2 separate regions of the Homo sapiens genome follow, and region 1 is linked to region 2. A link means that fine-mapping ties the variant in region 2 to the expression of a gene that starts in the linked region. Tissue or cell type: caudate. Region 2 holds a variant in brackets; the other region holds the start of a gene. All regions are shown on one strand. Distances are between the middles of the regions.

Evidence for each region. PIP is the estimated chance that this variant, and not a neighbour inherited with it, causes the effect.
Region 1: it holds the start of ASTN1, and the variant in region 2 is fine-mapped to the expression of ASTN1 in caudate (GTEx, PIP 0.99).

The regions. Positions count from the first base shown.
Region 1 is chr1:177,161,530-177,169,638 of GRCh38, forward strand. It overlaps ASTN1 (astrotactin 1), which reads right to left and starts at 3,183. Exons shown (of 23, transcript NM_004319.3): 1 at 2,865-3,183. The coding sequence starts at 3,147.
Region 2 is chr1:177,468,487-177,476,595 of GRCh38, forward strand. No RefSeq gene overlaps it. Among named protein-coding and RNA genes, the nearest start is that of LINC01645, 120 kb to the left of the region's middle. The variant T/C (reference allele first, on the strand shown) is at 4,369.

The sequences.
Region 1 (8,109 bases), 310 kb before region 2:
ATGGATACCACCTAATAGAGAAAGGGCAAAGAGCCTTCCAGGCAGAGTAGCTACATGTGCAAAGTCTTGAAACAGTCCAGAAGGCCATGGCAGGCTTGGAGGGATAAAGGGCTGGAGAAGTTGGCTGCAATCAGAATGAGAAGACCCTAGTTAGCCTCAGTGAAGTGACAGGACTTGATCCTAGAGGCAAAAGGAAGCCAAAGCTTGTTTTTCTTGTTGTTTGTAATTTTTTTTTTCACTCAAAGGAGTGACAGGATCTGATTTTAGCCTAAGCTTCTGGTCCATGATTACCATGGAATCTGCTCTTGTCATGCAAGCAAATCCTTCCACAGCATCCCTATACCCCTTAACAGCCATACCACACAATTAGGTAGGTACAGCTCTTACAGGTATCTTTGTGTTTCCAGTGACTAGAGACCACTTGAGGGCAAGAGACTTTTTTTTAACTTCTGTTTCCTAGTAATGCCTCTGAGTGCTGAGCAGGTACAACTCAATAAATTTCCAGAATTGACTGATTCAGATTCCTCCAGGAGATGGATTAAGTAAACAAGGTTCCAAAGATAGGAGTAGGGAAATCTCAAAACCAAAGTCACTACAGCCCTCACCATTGGCCAAGAGCTGCATGATCAAGACCACAAAAGTTAAATTCAAAACTACCTTTGAGTCTATCCTCCATAAATTTGGACTCCTCTTCCTTTCTGCCCAGATCTGTTTAACCACCCACCCAAACTGAAATTCATTCCTTCTTCCTTTGAGCATACTGAGTCAGAAAGAATAAGTACCAGCCCTTCTCTGGTTCTGAGCATACCCCACTGACTGGGAGAGTGGGAGATAATCGATGCATTTAAATAGTGCATCTGGCCCTGAAGTGAGAGAGTGTGTCTGTGTGCCTGTGTGTAAATGCCAAGTTGCACCAGATTACCATAGCAACCCCAACAGGACACTGCAGTGGGCAGCTTTGCACAGAGGTGCAGAAAACCCGTTCTTATAACATCTGGGCTTTCACTGTGCACATTGGTTCCTAGTAGGCACATCACAGCATTAGGCCCTGGTTTTGGGATTCTGCAAAAAAGAAATGAAATGTTGAATACCTGCTAGCCCTCCCTTTTTTTAAGCACCATGCTTGTACCTCTTCATGCACAGTAAACACTACAAGCAGAGTGCAAAACAGCCTCTTTAGAAACACATAATTCCCTCTACTCACTTTTATATACTATGATGAACAGATTGTACTTTGCATATCAGCATGACTTCAACGTGAACTTTCCATCCTCCAAATAACCCAGTAATTGTACATTTTGATGAGCGGCATATCCACAATGCTCCCATTTCCAGCTAGTCCCCAGTTTTTATTATGTTATTGGTATTTTTGAAAGCAAAAATAAATAATCCTATCAAGAGCATAGGTTGGGTTTAATGGGTTCAACTGAGCTGCACTCCGGGAACTATAAAGCAACTTTTCAAAGGGCCAGGCAATTTTTGAAATTGCTTTTCCCTAAGGGTTGGGGAGTAGGGGTTTATTCACTCACTTCCTAGTGTTTTCAGTGTGAAGACATCTCCTATGAAGGAAGAGCAAGAGGGATGTGTTAGAATTCCACATGTGGCTCTAGCCTACATGTGGCCATCAGGAAACCATGTTTCTGCAAATGGAACTGTAGTTGGTAGGGTATCAAGTAAATGGAACAGCCTCCTAGACATTTTCTTTTTTTCTCTACTTGGATCTAGAGACTGAAGTGTGGTTTTCTTTGAATTTCTCCTGGGCAAAATAAGAATAATTGGCAACATCACTAAAGAAATGGATTGCATGGTAGGCATGCACAGCAAGGTGAGAGCTCCATCTACACATGGAGAAGTGAGGGGAATTTGGCAAAGTAACATGAACTTGTGGTGCTTTGCAAGATACTAGAGCAGGACCACAAAACCTTTGCAGCTTAGTAGTGGAAAACAGGGATGATTTGAAGTAATGTATGGGTTCCAGTACCTGAAGTGACAGGAGTTCCACTACCTGAAGGTGACCTAAGAAAATTACAGTGGGAGTACCAAAAAGAGAGAGATGTAAACAAACAAAGGAAGGAAGAGCCCCTTGCCTAGAAAGGTCATTCTGTGTGCAGGAATGCCTACGCCTATCTAAGGTGGCCCTGGGAACAAAGAAGAGACCAATACTAACAGACTACAGTTGTATAATATCTTTAACCAACTGTGACGTGACATGGATGTGTGGATGTGGTTGAATTAGGGGGTTGTGACATCTAAGCATGGAGGTAGGACTTCCCAGAATGAACAGCTGGGGGATAAGAAACTTGAGTGTTTGGAAGGGAGGGTGTCAGTAGCCTGGTGACAGATAAAGGGCTCTCCATGAATGAAGACTAGAATCTGGCTTGCACATAGCTGGCAAGGTGATGACAGGATACCTGTTTCTAAAGCCCCCAGGAAGTGCTGTAGGTGGGTGTGGGTATCCAGAGTGAGTGAAGCAAAGAGCTGAGCATGTGGCTAGGGAGTGGGGAGAAGGGATTATGGGAGTTGAACTGGTAGCAGACAAAAAGTGCTGTGTGGATGTGCTCCTGAATCAAAGCTGGGAGGTCAAGGCTGGGAGAGGTTTCAGAGAGACTCATGCAACCTGTTTCTTTGAGGCAGGGCAGCTGAGAGGAGGCTCAGCATCCAGGTCGGATTTGGGGAGAAGTCAGGTGCACAGAGGCGCTAGTATGCAAGTGGGTGTGGAGAATGGTCCGGGAGTGGGGCGGATCCGGGAGGTAGGAGTGGGGGAGGGGAGGTCGTCGGCGAGTGGGTGTGTAGAGCGAGCTGGAGTGGGGGGTGGGGGCGCCGGTCCAGCGCCTCCGGCCGCCTCGACCTCCCCCGGGACTCACCCAGCACGAAGTAGGGCAGCTCCGTGTTCTCCAGGTCGTCCACCACGACCATTTCTCCCGGGAAGTCGTTGCGCACCGAGAAGAGGAGCTTGGGCTCCGAGGCCGAGGGGCTGTGCATGATGCTCAGGTCGTTCTCGCGCAGGAAGGGCAGTGCCGACACCGTGATGCTTTTGAGCTTGCACTCCAGCTCCTTGGATGGATCCACGTCGCCGGCGGCCGTGGCCAGCACCGCCGCCGGCCCCCAGCAGCAGGCGAGCAGGGCGCAGAGCCCGGCTAAAGCCATCTTGAGCCCCGGCCGCCTTCCTCCTAGCGCTGCGATGGTGGGGGAGGAAGCGAGCGGGGAGGGAGCGAGGGAGCGAGCGCGGGAGGCGGGGGAGGTTAGGGAGGGGATGGAGAGCCGGGAGAGCCCTGGACCCCGGAATGAGATGCCGCTTGCAGAGTCCTGGGTTTAAGCTCTGATGTCTGGAGAGCCCCGGATTCTTTGTTTCCCGGAGCTGCTTATCTGGAGAAGGGAAAGCGGGGGAGGGGGGAGAGGAGAAAAAGGGAAGGAAGGACGTCGAAAGGAAAGAGGAAGGGAGCTGAGGATTCTAGGGAATCAGGTCAGCCCCCAGCTGGCTGCCGGTGCTCCTGCCTCTCTCCTCCGTTGCATCCTCCAACACGAGCAAGGCTCTTGGCTATGAACTACCTGCACGGCATTTTTAATACATTGATCTTTGCAATGTAAAATCTTCCCTCTCGCATCATCATCCAGAAGGCTTGAGAGAGGCACACACAGACATACACCTTAAAGGGCGCTTCTGCAAAGCTGCGCGGTGAGGGGAGATGAAAATTCCCCCAGTGGTTTTGTGGATGTATTATAGCTTGTCCGAATCTTGCTTCCACCCCGCCCCGTCCCCCACTAGTTGGATTTGTACATAGGATAAACGGGAGCTGGGAATGCACATGTGCATATTTTTACTTAGCACTAACTTTGCAAAATATTTAAAGAAAATATTTGTTATACTGGTTTAGATGGATGGATAGATATGCACAACAGAGTAAGGTGCACAGTTAAGCAGGAGATCGAAACTTTTACTCGCAACTTCTCTCTGCTTCATTTCATTTCTATCACAAATTTTATCTGTAGTAACCAATAAAAAGATGATTTGGGGAATATTATAGCTGATAGAAAAAAAGTAGGGTTAGCTCAAATAAATCTTGAAACTTTAATTTTAGACAATCTAGTAAATAGGACAAAGCTGGAAAGAAATTGTGAGAAAAACCAAAGTTCCTAAGCATTCTTAACAGATGGAAAAGTAATAAAAGAATATCCTTGGGTATGAGCTAAGTCAATCCCAATCCAGTCAAGAGTACAACAGGGAAGATGTTCAGCACCCTGCGTAAGTATTCTGAAGAATAACACCACCACCACCACCACCAAAACCCATGTAAGATCTGTTCCCAGTAGTGCTCAACAATGTTGCCTTTTAAAAATGATGACAATATGCAATAAACAGTGGTAGAAAAGTGACATTGTGTATTCTGAAATCTGACATTTAACTGAACTTTCTCTCACATGATAACCAATAACTTATTTCAAAAGTGTGTCCCTCCATTGTTATTGGGTCAATGCTAACTTCAATACTAGGTGCTGTGAAGACTGTGTTATTTGTAGTTCTCACTCTAGAAATTTAATGCACTACTGTTCTAAAAGAGGACCCCTACTTAAGAAACAATTACATTTTCATTCTACCTGGTGTCAGTTTATTGGCATATGTGAAAATATGTTCTTTAAAAGACAAAAAAGCTTTTGCCATATATTTTACAAAGTTTATCTAATTGAATAGAGAAAATAAGCCATATTTAAGGTAATGTTTAAGTAGTGAAAGATCATTTACCACATATGCAAAGAAAAGAAGAACAAAGACACTTTATTAGTTGAGTTTTTATATGTAACTTATCTGGGAATTAACCCCAAGTTATCTTACCATGCAGCATTGCAAACTACTGTAAACTACTGTAAAAAAGATGTACCAGCTAACGACTTTTGAAAACTCATCCTGATCGTCATTGCTCCCCTAAGAGATACTGAGTGAGACAAAAACCCCATGATATCTCTTTCATTCTGTTATCCCTAGCATAAACAAAAATCTAGTATTAAACTTACTTATGCAAGGTTATTTGCCATTGAATAATTATAGTGGATGTCAGGAACACACCCTTGATACTAGAATGTGAGAAATGGCATGTAAGTACCTGATCATGTATTCATCCAATCTCTCACTTAACAGATAAGGAAATTGAGACCCATTAAAGAGTGATCTATCTTCTATGGAGCTAAGACCATGAACAAGATTTCTTTGCCCACTGCTCTTTCCACTATATGGTTATGGTACACTAGGGTGCACCCATGGATAATCACTGGGCTTTATGGACCACAGTAATTAATTCAGCAAATGTTTGTGTACCTACTGTATCATAAGCATTAGGCTAAGCACAGCCAGAAAAATACTACTCCTGCTTTTGAGTAGCATATAATCTACTGTCACTTTGAAATCTTTCTTTCTAATTTTCTGAAGATTCTTGAGTCATGTTAGAAAGCCCAAGTAAACCATTTAGGGTTGATTTTCCAATAAGTCAATATCTAGTCTTCTTAAAATGTATATTGAGTTGGGCATAGTTGGTAGTTGGTATCTCAAGTCTTTCTAGACCTCTCTAAACAAAACCAAACAAAAGAAACAGTAGAATTTTTTAAAAGAGAATATATTATTCCAGAGTACTTGATTCCTGTAAAAATGGAAATAATGTCACATGGCCCTTTCTTAGGGAATTAAATACCTAGAGATGTGGGTAAAGGTTGAAGTACATGGAAACCAGGCCATCTCTAATGCATGATGTTTTACATTTAGAGGAGATGGGGGAAAATGTTATGCATCTCAATCATCACCTTTGTGTAGAGGCATAATGATATAGTGAAATAATAGAACTGGATTCAAGACTTAACTTCATAATATTCTTATTTGGAGATAAGCTTGGACCATTCTTGTCTTTAGTTCCCCATCAACAAAAGGGGCCAATCATCTCCGCTCACCCCTGCTGGTCACAGAAAATGTTTCTGACTTTCATCACCAAAGAGTAATGTTACTTGCTCTTGAATTTTATAAATATAGAATCTTAGAGTATATGCTTTTTTGTGTCTTAATATTTTCACTCATCATTATGTCTGTGAGATTTATCCATGTAGTTCAATATTGTATTGCTGTGTACTAGTCCATTACATGACTACATGGCATTTATTCATTCTCAGAAAATTTCTATTCTTTAAAACACTGTAAAACAGCAAGCGCTGTTATCTCCAATCTTCACTTTTCTCCTGAGATACACCTTCCTGTATTTAAGCACCAATGGCCTCTTTCCTTGACTATTAAAATAGATTTTGATTCCTTTTCCTCCTAGCAACGCATTCTGTACACAACTACCAGGTTGATCTTCATGAAATCTAACTTTCATTATGTCATTCTAGTTTTTCTTTTTCTACATGATAAAGCTGAAAACCCATGGTTTAGAAATTTTAAAACTCTTCTAATCTCACACTGTTTTTTAGATAGTTTGCTCACTGCACTATATCTCTATCCTCCCACCACACATGTGCACACAGACACACACATCTCTCAATCAAATTAAAATCTATTTCCTATTTTCACTCCTCCCATAACATTCTGTCCACCTGAAGTGCAACACTCTTTATTCTTCAGATTGTCCCATCTCTCCAAGCTAATCTGCAGCTGCACCTATGCAGTGAGAACTTCCATCACTTCCCTTCTTTTAGCTCCATTCCCTGGGCATTTATTTACATCTCCCCCAACATCTACACATATACATACACATACACTCAGGAAAGCAAGAGCTATTTCCTAATACAAAGTCTTAAATTCAATATTCTTATTTGCAAAACAGGAATAATACATAGTTTTGGGGGTGGTTGTGAGGAGGAAATGAGATTATGTATGTAAACAATGTGACACATTTTAGGCATTTAGTTGGCACTCAGTAGCGATAGCCTTTGCCACTATCACCTTATTCAATTATTTTGGCAAGATAATAGGCTTCAGAGTCATCTTCATGAGATTTTCTCCAGTGTAGTAGTCAAAGCAAATTAAGTAATGTATAGTCCTTGGTGTTTTCCCAGAGGAAATGATTGCATACATCCACCAAAAGACAAGCACAAAAACATTTATAACAAGTTTACTTATAATAGCCAAAAAACCCCAGAAACATCCCAAATATCTATCAAGAACAGAATGAATAAATGCCATGTAGTCATGTAATAGAGTGGTGCACCGCAATAAAACATACAACTACATGGATAAATCTCAGAGACAAAATGATGAGTGAAAGGATCAAGACACAAAAGAGTGTATACTCTAAGATCCTATATTTACAAAGTTCAAGAGCAAGTAACATTAATCTTTGGTGATGGAAGTCAGAATATAATTATCTCTGGGGAGTGGAGGGTTTTGACTGAGAACGTTCACGAACATGCTTCCTGCAGTGCTGGAAATAAAGTGAGTAATGGTTACATTGATGCATATATAGGCAAGAATTAAACTATACACTTGTGGCAATTCTTAATGTATATTCTGCCTCTTTAAAATTTTTTACACGGCTTCAGACTTTATAGGAGAAGAAAGTACAAGCAAGTTTTCTTTTTCAAGTTGTCTTCTTATCTGCCATCACCTCTTTCCTCTCTCTTTTACAGATTTTGGAAATTTTAACTTTCTTTCCATTGAAATTAGCAATCCTTTGTTCAACCTCTCCCTCTATTTACCCACTCCCTTATGCTATTTTAACATTTCAGTATGTTGTCACTTGGGACAAGTTCAGTGGGTCTCTGCCTCTAGAAATCACAAAAGTAAATAACTCAGCAGTTGGGTAGCAATAGATTTAGGCTCTCAGTGGTTCTCTTGGTTATTTTATTCTAGAAAGAGAGCTCAGGACCCTGTGGGACCACCATTCTCTGACATGTTTTGTAGCTTAGGCAAACAGATACTTGCAGTATGCAGAAGGAAGTTCAACGTTGTATAAGATACAGAGAAGAAAATATAGGTGAAAGTGATAGATGTGTGAGTCTGAGGGGATGAATGAAGAAAATTTCTAATTTTTCTTTATTCATTCAGAACTTACGGCTACTTGATGCAGTTTAGCTAATCTCCATGTGTACTTCTTACACATTCATTAAATCTCTACATACTTTTTTTTTCTAGTT
Region 2 (8,109 bases):
GGTCCTGGGGTTATGAAGAAGAATAAAAGATATTCTCATCGAGGAAGATTACTTCCTAGTGTTACAGAACAATGAAAAAAAGAATTATTATACAATACAGGTATAATAAAACAGAACGAACAAAAGTACAGAGGGAAGACCAAATACACTGGGGAGTCAGAGAAATCTTCATAGAGGTGATATTAGAGCTTACATTTGAAAGAAAATTAGTTGAAAAGAAGAGGAGGTACATTCTTGAAGTTAGTTCTTTTATATTATTTTGAATTGCATTCAGGGCCAAGCCTGAGAAGTGGGGAGATGCTAACTTCTTAGATTGTGCAGGATGTTCATGAGTAGCCAAAGGTTATCCCTGGTGCCATGATACTGGGTTGGCTCCAGATTTATTAATAAACCTAGGTTTTGGCCAAGACCTCAGGTTTTAAACACCCAGACTTTGTCTTCTCATCCACAAAAGGATGGTGGATTTTATTAATGAGCATTTTTTAAAGAATAGGAATATTTATTTTATAAAGAATAAGGTGGCCAGGTGCAGTGGCTCACGCCTGTAATCCTAGCACTTTGGGAGGCTGAGGCAGGCGGATTGCCTGAGCCCAGGATTTCAAGGCCAGCCTGGGCAACATGGTGAAACCCTGTCTCTACTAAAAAATACAAAAAATTAGCCAGACGCAGCGTGCACCTGTAGTCCCAGCTACTTAGGAGGCTGAGGCAGGAGAATTGCTTGAACCTGGGAGGCAGACATTGCAGTGAGGCGAGATTGTGCCACTGCACTCCAGTCTGGGTGACAGAGTGAGACTCTGTCTCAAAAAAAAAAAAAAAAGAAAGAATAGGGTATCTTGTTAGGTTAAGTAATTTAAAAAAATTGCAGTGATTATGGTTATGAATTTAAAAGCTAAAAAGGTCTTTGTCTGGAGTAGTCCCCAGGAGTTAAGCTTGCTAAGAAAAGAAATGGACTTTGCTTTAAAAATATGAATTATCTTAATACCATATCAGAAGCTGTAGAAGAAATAAAAAAAAAATCCTTGGGAACTCTTGGAGATCTGCCTAGACCCATCTTAATGTGAAAATAAAACCTTAGATGCCAATAGACAGATATAAAAAGGAAAAAGAGATGTTTCTAGATCAAATGGCTCAAAGAGAGGAGATTAGAAAAGAGGAGGAAATGTTTTGTTTTAGATTCAAAAGGGTTGCTGTAGTCCAAAGAAATCCCACAGAGCAAGAGAATAAGAGCTTAACCAATCTTAAAGGAAGCCTGGATCCAAGAAAACGCGCCTTTTAACGCTGAAGGTAATTTATGAAACAGCAACTGGAGAACCACTTCTTGAAAGTTGGAATAGCTATACAAAAGGTTTCAGGAGAAGAAATTAGACTACTTTAGGAAAGATCATCTTAAAATACTTGCAGCATTATTGGGGTAAATTTCAAGGAGACTAGTTATTGTAGGTGGAATTGTGTTGGTTATTGTTTAACAACCCACTCTCTGGAAAATAATAACCTTATTCGTAGCATTTGTCAATCTCTGAGATATGAATACTCCCTCCATGACTGATTTCAAGCATTCAATGTAAAGTCACTGAACACAAAGTTGGAAGAGATGCGCACAGCCAGCTCTATGAGCCAATGAGAGCCAGCTCCAGCACACAATGGTGCAGATGCAGCTATTGAAGTATGCCAAAATTCGTGAAACTTGACCTCTAAGAGAATATGAGGAATACAGAAAAAATACTAACAGGGACCTGGGGAAAACAATAAAAGATGAAATCCTGTTCTGGTTTAGATGTTGGTCTGCTGCAATACTACTATTAGGTTTACCAATCCAGGTTTGGAAGCCAAAGTGGATATGCTTGAACAATAGATTACCTTATTGACCAGAATTCACTGACTTATCATGTCTTACTGTAAAGCCGCCCACTATAAAATATATGTATATACATATCTCATAAATTTTTAAAAAGCCAATGTCTAGGGCTGGGCTGATATTCCGCACCAGTATATACCAACATGGCCATATGTCTTATTTACAGTCAGCATTTCTTTCTATTGGTTAGTGACTGTGCCATACTAATTGTTAAATACTTGAGTATCATCCCTGTCTAGGGCAGAGATCAAAAAGGAGAAAGGAAAGAGAGTGCTTAGTCCAGCTAATACCAGTAGCCTTCCATGTTGTGGTAGAGAATGAAAGGAACAAACTAAAGAAGAAAGTTAAACTGTCAGAATCTCAGCTGAGCTTTTCTTAAAAGGCAAAGAGAAACTAGCAAGGAAAATGAAGCATTAGAGACATATCCCATTACTGGAGAAAAATATTACAGTGAAAAAAAATGTTACTCAAGGCCTGTAACATCTAAAAGCAGAGGAAAAATAAGAACTGCACGGCAGATGTGCTTAGGGGCATAGACTTCAGAAATGTCAATGGCAACCTCTGTTTTAGAGCCTTCCAAGGGTAATGCCCTAGCTAAAAGGGATGTCAAGGCAAGGGTAAAAACCTTAAACGACAGAAGTCTTAGGATTAAACAATGCCATAGGAAAAGACATGGTGGGGTCACTGAGGCACAAGATTGGTAAATATCTGCACACAAAGCTCAAAGAGGCTATATCTCTAAACAGAGCCCACATCCAACTTGGTTCTCAGGCACCAGGTACAAGCACTCTAAATAAGCCAAGACAAAAAAGAGGTTTTGAATGTACAAGATGGGAAAACAAAACAAAACAAAAAGTCCCCAAACTGGTGCTTAGGCCTGCCACCACTGCATGTCTAAATTTAGAAGAGATATGTCTCTCTGAGAAAGGGGACTGAGTATAAATCTGATAAATCTATGGCCATTATAGACTCTTTCATGGGAGTTTTTCCCCAACTGGGTTTAAGTTTCCTAGGCCATGTCATAAATAGACTGGAATCCTGGCAAAGTTACAACTGTAACGTTCTCCTCTTTTTAGTCTACTTTCTTTCAAATATGACTAAGTCTCAACTGTCATCTTGGCAAAGAACAGAATGGTCTGTACAGTAAATATCTCCTGTTAGTGTTCATTTGAGGTGAGGACACATTCCTGGCTCCATTCTAAGTTGATTACTTAATCTAAGATGTCACCAATCAGCCTTTCTCATCTAGGGTCTCCTAAAAATTTAAGGCTTAATAAAGACCTAATGCCCTAAAACAGGAGTTGGTAAACTTTTAATGAAAGGTCCACACAAAATATATTTTAGGCATTGTGGGTAATACATGAAAACTGCCATAGGCAATACATAAACACGTGGGAGTATCTGTGTTGCAACAAAACTTTATTTACAAAAGTATACAATAGGCTGGATTTGGCCCCCAGTAGTAGTTTGTTGACCCTTGCACTAAAATATCCATATTATATAGTAACTTAGCTTCTCTTCCACACACCTAGAATGATACTAGATATTTGCAACCTTGAGAGGACTGAGAAAATTGTTCCTGAAGTTTTGTGTGTGTGTGTTTTGTTTCAGAAAGGAACCCTAGACTGGGAAAGGCTCTACTTAGTAATCTAGATACCTTGATTTAGATAATTCCAATTCAGACTCCAAAATGTCTCTCTGAGGCTGTTTGAGACTCCCCTCTGCAACCCCTGCAGCTCCTGCATATAAACTTGCTCCCTCTGTTTTTGCCTCACTTACCCCGGATATAGAGAGCTTAGTACCTCTTTCAAGTCCACCGAAGGAATCATGCCAAAATAAGGGCTGGTATCAACAGATGATGAAGTAGGAGTTTTATGTGTGACATCTCACACTAAAAAAAAAACTCTTAAATGTTCCCACTAGACATACCTATACCTCCAATTCACTTCTCAGTCATGCCACTACTGGAGTTTCTCTGCATCTAATTACACAACTGCCCTTTTTCCTGTCATTTACTCCTGGATCTTTCCTTGCCAACTTTCTTCTCTATTATGCAAAGCAATTCTGCTTGGTTCCAGGGCTGTATGTGAAGGCTTCAACTTCACATAACCAAATCCATACTAGACTTCAGAAAAACCAGGGCTTTACTGTTGTCCATATTAACCCTGCTTAAAAGCAGGCCCAGGTTTAGAGAGCAAAAAAAGACTTCTCATTTTATAGACATAGTTAATCAAGTGTTCTAAAATGGCATATGAGTGAAGGAGTGCATGTTTTTACCTATTTATGTTATCCTCAAGTCATGCTGTTTGACCTTGGGATCCAAGCTTTACATGTCACTTGCAGTTTAGGACATCAAGACTCTTGGACAAGTCTTAGCATGCTGGTGAAGGCCTGATGCACACAATGTATGACTAGGCTGCGGAAGTTGCTGGAGGGAGAAGGTGGGCAGGGAATGCAGATGTGATCTAGAAAGAAGAAAATGGATGCTGAGTGGGTAGCCAAGTACACAATGA[T/C]GTTAGAAAGCATGTGCAAACTGGGTGAGAACAAGCATGTAATTGGGTATGAATCATTAAGTTACATAATTATATATTATGTTTAGAGTGACCTGAAAGAGTGAATTAGAGTGGGAGAGAAATCTGGTTGCTGTATCTTTATGGGATACTTCCAAGGTAAATAAACCTTTTTTTTTTTGCCAGAGAGATTCTCAACTGGCTGAAGGATACACAAGATGTCTTATTTGTGTGTCACTTGTTTGTGTTACTAATGACTCCTGCTGACACCACCCTTGCTTCTTCAGGTCAGTGGGTCTTCGTGCCTTAGGTCTCTGCATTACCATCCCCTCTTCATTGGAGCTACTTTGCTGAGAGAGTGGGTTAGGGTATGAACCTTATGGTCTAGTAATAAAGTCCACACTTGCAGGCTTTGCAGACAGAATGGCAAATAATTTTCAATCTGCATACTAGTACTAATTAATCGATAGTGGCTACTTAGATGCTGTGTTGAGAGTGATTCTTAGGTCACATCTGGGGTAAGCAGGAAGAATTTTGTCTCATTTGATACTCTAAGTACTGTTGGCCTTCCCATACTAACAAGGATTTTTAGGGAAAAAAATTTTACAGAATGTCAAAAAAGCAATTGCTCTGGGGAAAGGCAAGCCTGGATTTGCCTCCTCTGCTATCTGTGTTTTGGGGAAAGACCATAGAAGCCTAAGTCCAGATACCTTTATTTGTGAAAAAGAGACAACAGCACCCACCCCACAGAGTTGCAAAAAATGATTTAGCAGATGTTAAAATCTAGCACATCCCTGGAACATGTTTACTAATTCAAAGTACATTATTTCTACTTCCTGACTAGAAAAAGACCATATTTTTTCATGCAAAAATCTCAGATATATCATTGGGTATAAAAATTATCTGATGGAAACATGACTGAAAGACTAGATGTTTTCAGTCTGGGACAGAATGTTAGATCAATATGACTGTCAACAAGTTTGTCTCTCTATGCGGGACACAAAATTGAGAAGCAGGGACTTGAAGTGAATAAAAATGTAATTTAATACACAATCAAATAAAAATTCTACAGCTTTAGAATCAGAGAATATTCTTGGAATGGACCCTTTTTCAGTACCATAAATTTAACCAACTGAATTCTTTAAGTATCTGCCTTGTCAACCCTTTGAAATGAAGGTTGATTAGGTTCAACGGGAAATCTACATTTCATCATGAAAATGGAACACAACGTGTCCTTGGCTAGTCTCCCATGGAGTAGCAATTTGGGGCACTGTGTGCAAAGCATGAAGCAAAAACACAGGTAGAAAATTTATTTCAGGCATGACAAACAGGAGGCATGCATATGCATAGCCCAAGAAGCATGAAAAGTCAGAGCTTCCATTCTCACTGCACAGGCCTCCGTAAAAGGAAAACACAAAGGGGCTTCTTCAGCCTTTTATTTTACAAACAGTAGTTTATGAGAATGGAGACATTACAAGAAAAGGAGACACTTAAGATTAAGTGAGTTGATGTGTTTAAATATTAGGAGGAACAGAAACTCAATTATCGAGGGGTAAATGCAGCAATAGCAAGTCTCGTCAAAGAAATCAAGCCCCATTGGGTGTTTCTCACATTCTTGCTTCTTTTGACAAGGTTTAATGCAGAACCCAAGAGAATTTGACTATCTAATAACCTGAGCAAATAAAGTGTAGAGGAAGAACAAGTGTGCACATTATGCATCTCAATTCTAAGACAACAGTGAATGGTCTACTAGATTTAGCAGGTAAATTAAGGAGTCTGTTAGCAATGAGGTGCAAGCTGGCACACCCTCAATTCTGGCTGTTACCAGCCAAGGCACAGACATAACTGATGTTTCTCCAATACGACCAAGATGTGTCACCTAATCCAGAGAGAACACATTATCTATAACAGGCTTAAAGTCAGTTTGGAGGCCAAAATGTTGCCAATGTTTTCAGATCAAGTAATAGGCCTCTGAAAAGCTGAGTAAGCTGTTTGGCTGATGGAACAGTTAAAATTGAAGGGACAGTTCAATGGACTGACACTGGTTAAGAGAATCATTTAGTCAAGTTCATGACATACTCTTCCTCAATCTTGTACCTTTAAATCAAGTTAACCCTCCCCTGGAGCAAGTGGCTGGTGGCCAGTTAACTTGAGAAGGATAGGCAGCCCATTCCCTGTAATTGTTCTGGCCCTGAACTCCCCAAGCAGGCCCACTGAGCCTTTGGAACAACAGAGCAAAGTGCAGCAAGCAGGAAATACAATTTGGTGAAGTCATGCCAATGAGTACCCAGAACGCATCTGGAACTATGCTTGGCCTTATGGATATGCTTGGTATTGTGGATACATACACTGATGAAACGTGACTCTTCCTGCAAAGAGCTCACCTTTGAGTGGGGAAAATAGGTGGTAAATGTTAGCCAATAATGCAAAATGGTAGAGTTGGATATAAATTGAAATGTGAAAGGACAGCTACTTTTGACTCAAAAACGTAAAGCAGAAGTCAGATAAAATGATAGAGAAGTAGTGATCCTTAAACAGCGATGAAGAGTTTTCCCTGTGAACAAAAGAGGAGAGCACATTTCAGGCAATGGAAACAAGAGCCAATGTGTGGAGGGATGATATATATGGCATGGCTAAGGAGTCACAATAGAGTTCAGGGTGGCTGGACCAGAGAAGCTGTGTTCTAACTCCGAGATTTTGAACCTTTGGGACAAGGAGGGGAGATCTTGATCTCTTCCATGGTGTCCTACAAAATGCCTGCACCTAGTGCCTCATCTAGCTGAGACTGTAGTCCTGGGAAGACAAAGTTACTAATGACAATATCCCATACCCTTTACTCCCTTCTCTGATAAGATTTAATATTTTTAGCAAATGTTTTCTTTCAGCAAATATTCATTGAGCATCTATTATCTGCTAGTACTATGAAAGGCACTGATATTTTAGAAGTATTGTCATTAAATGGAATTAATATAGGATAAAAGTAAAAGTCTGAAACCAGTCTGTCTGGGTTCAAAGTTTAGTTTCGACACTTAGCAGCTGTACAATTTTAGATAAGGGACTTCATTTTTAAAATACAGATAATACTAGTATTCCTCTATAGCATGGCTGAGGATTAAATGACAAAAATCATGTATAATACTTAGAACATCACCAGTTATAAAAAGTGCCCCGTAAGAACTGGTTGTAATCATTATCTTTGGGTGCTAGAATGAACAGTGCACAGAGTGAACTGTCAACATAACTATTAATTCTGGGAGGGAATCTTTTGTCAGGCATATGCATCCCTCCCTCACCTTTTCATCAGTGTTGCACTGCTCTGCAACAGAAGTAACATCCTTTCCTCATGGCTCCAGGATGTCTTCCCTGCGTAGTGGAAGAACTCATTTTGTTGGGTTATTTCACCTAGGGATTGTATTCATTCCTCACAGAGCATCAAGACCCCCAATATCTAAACGATCCTTCTCAACTTTAACCCACACTCATATTTTCACTGACAGGCAACAAATGCTGTTTGCAGCACTTGTGAAACCCATTTATTTTAACATGAAATAAGCTTGTTCCTGACAGATTGCAGCAAGAAAGGTAAGCATAATGGGACTGTTCAGAGATTGGTGGTGTCTGACATTAGTGGAATCATCCGGATTTCACATTTAGCAGATTCAACAAAAGAGAAGAAATCAAAAATCATGTCTGTTTGGCATGGGAAGTGTGGAGAAAAGACAGGAGCTTGGGAACACAGTGAGG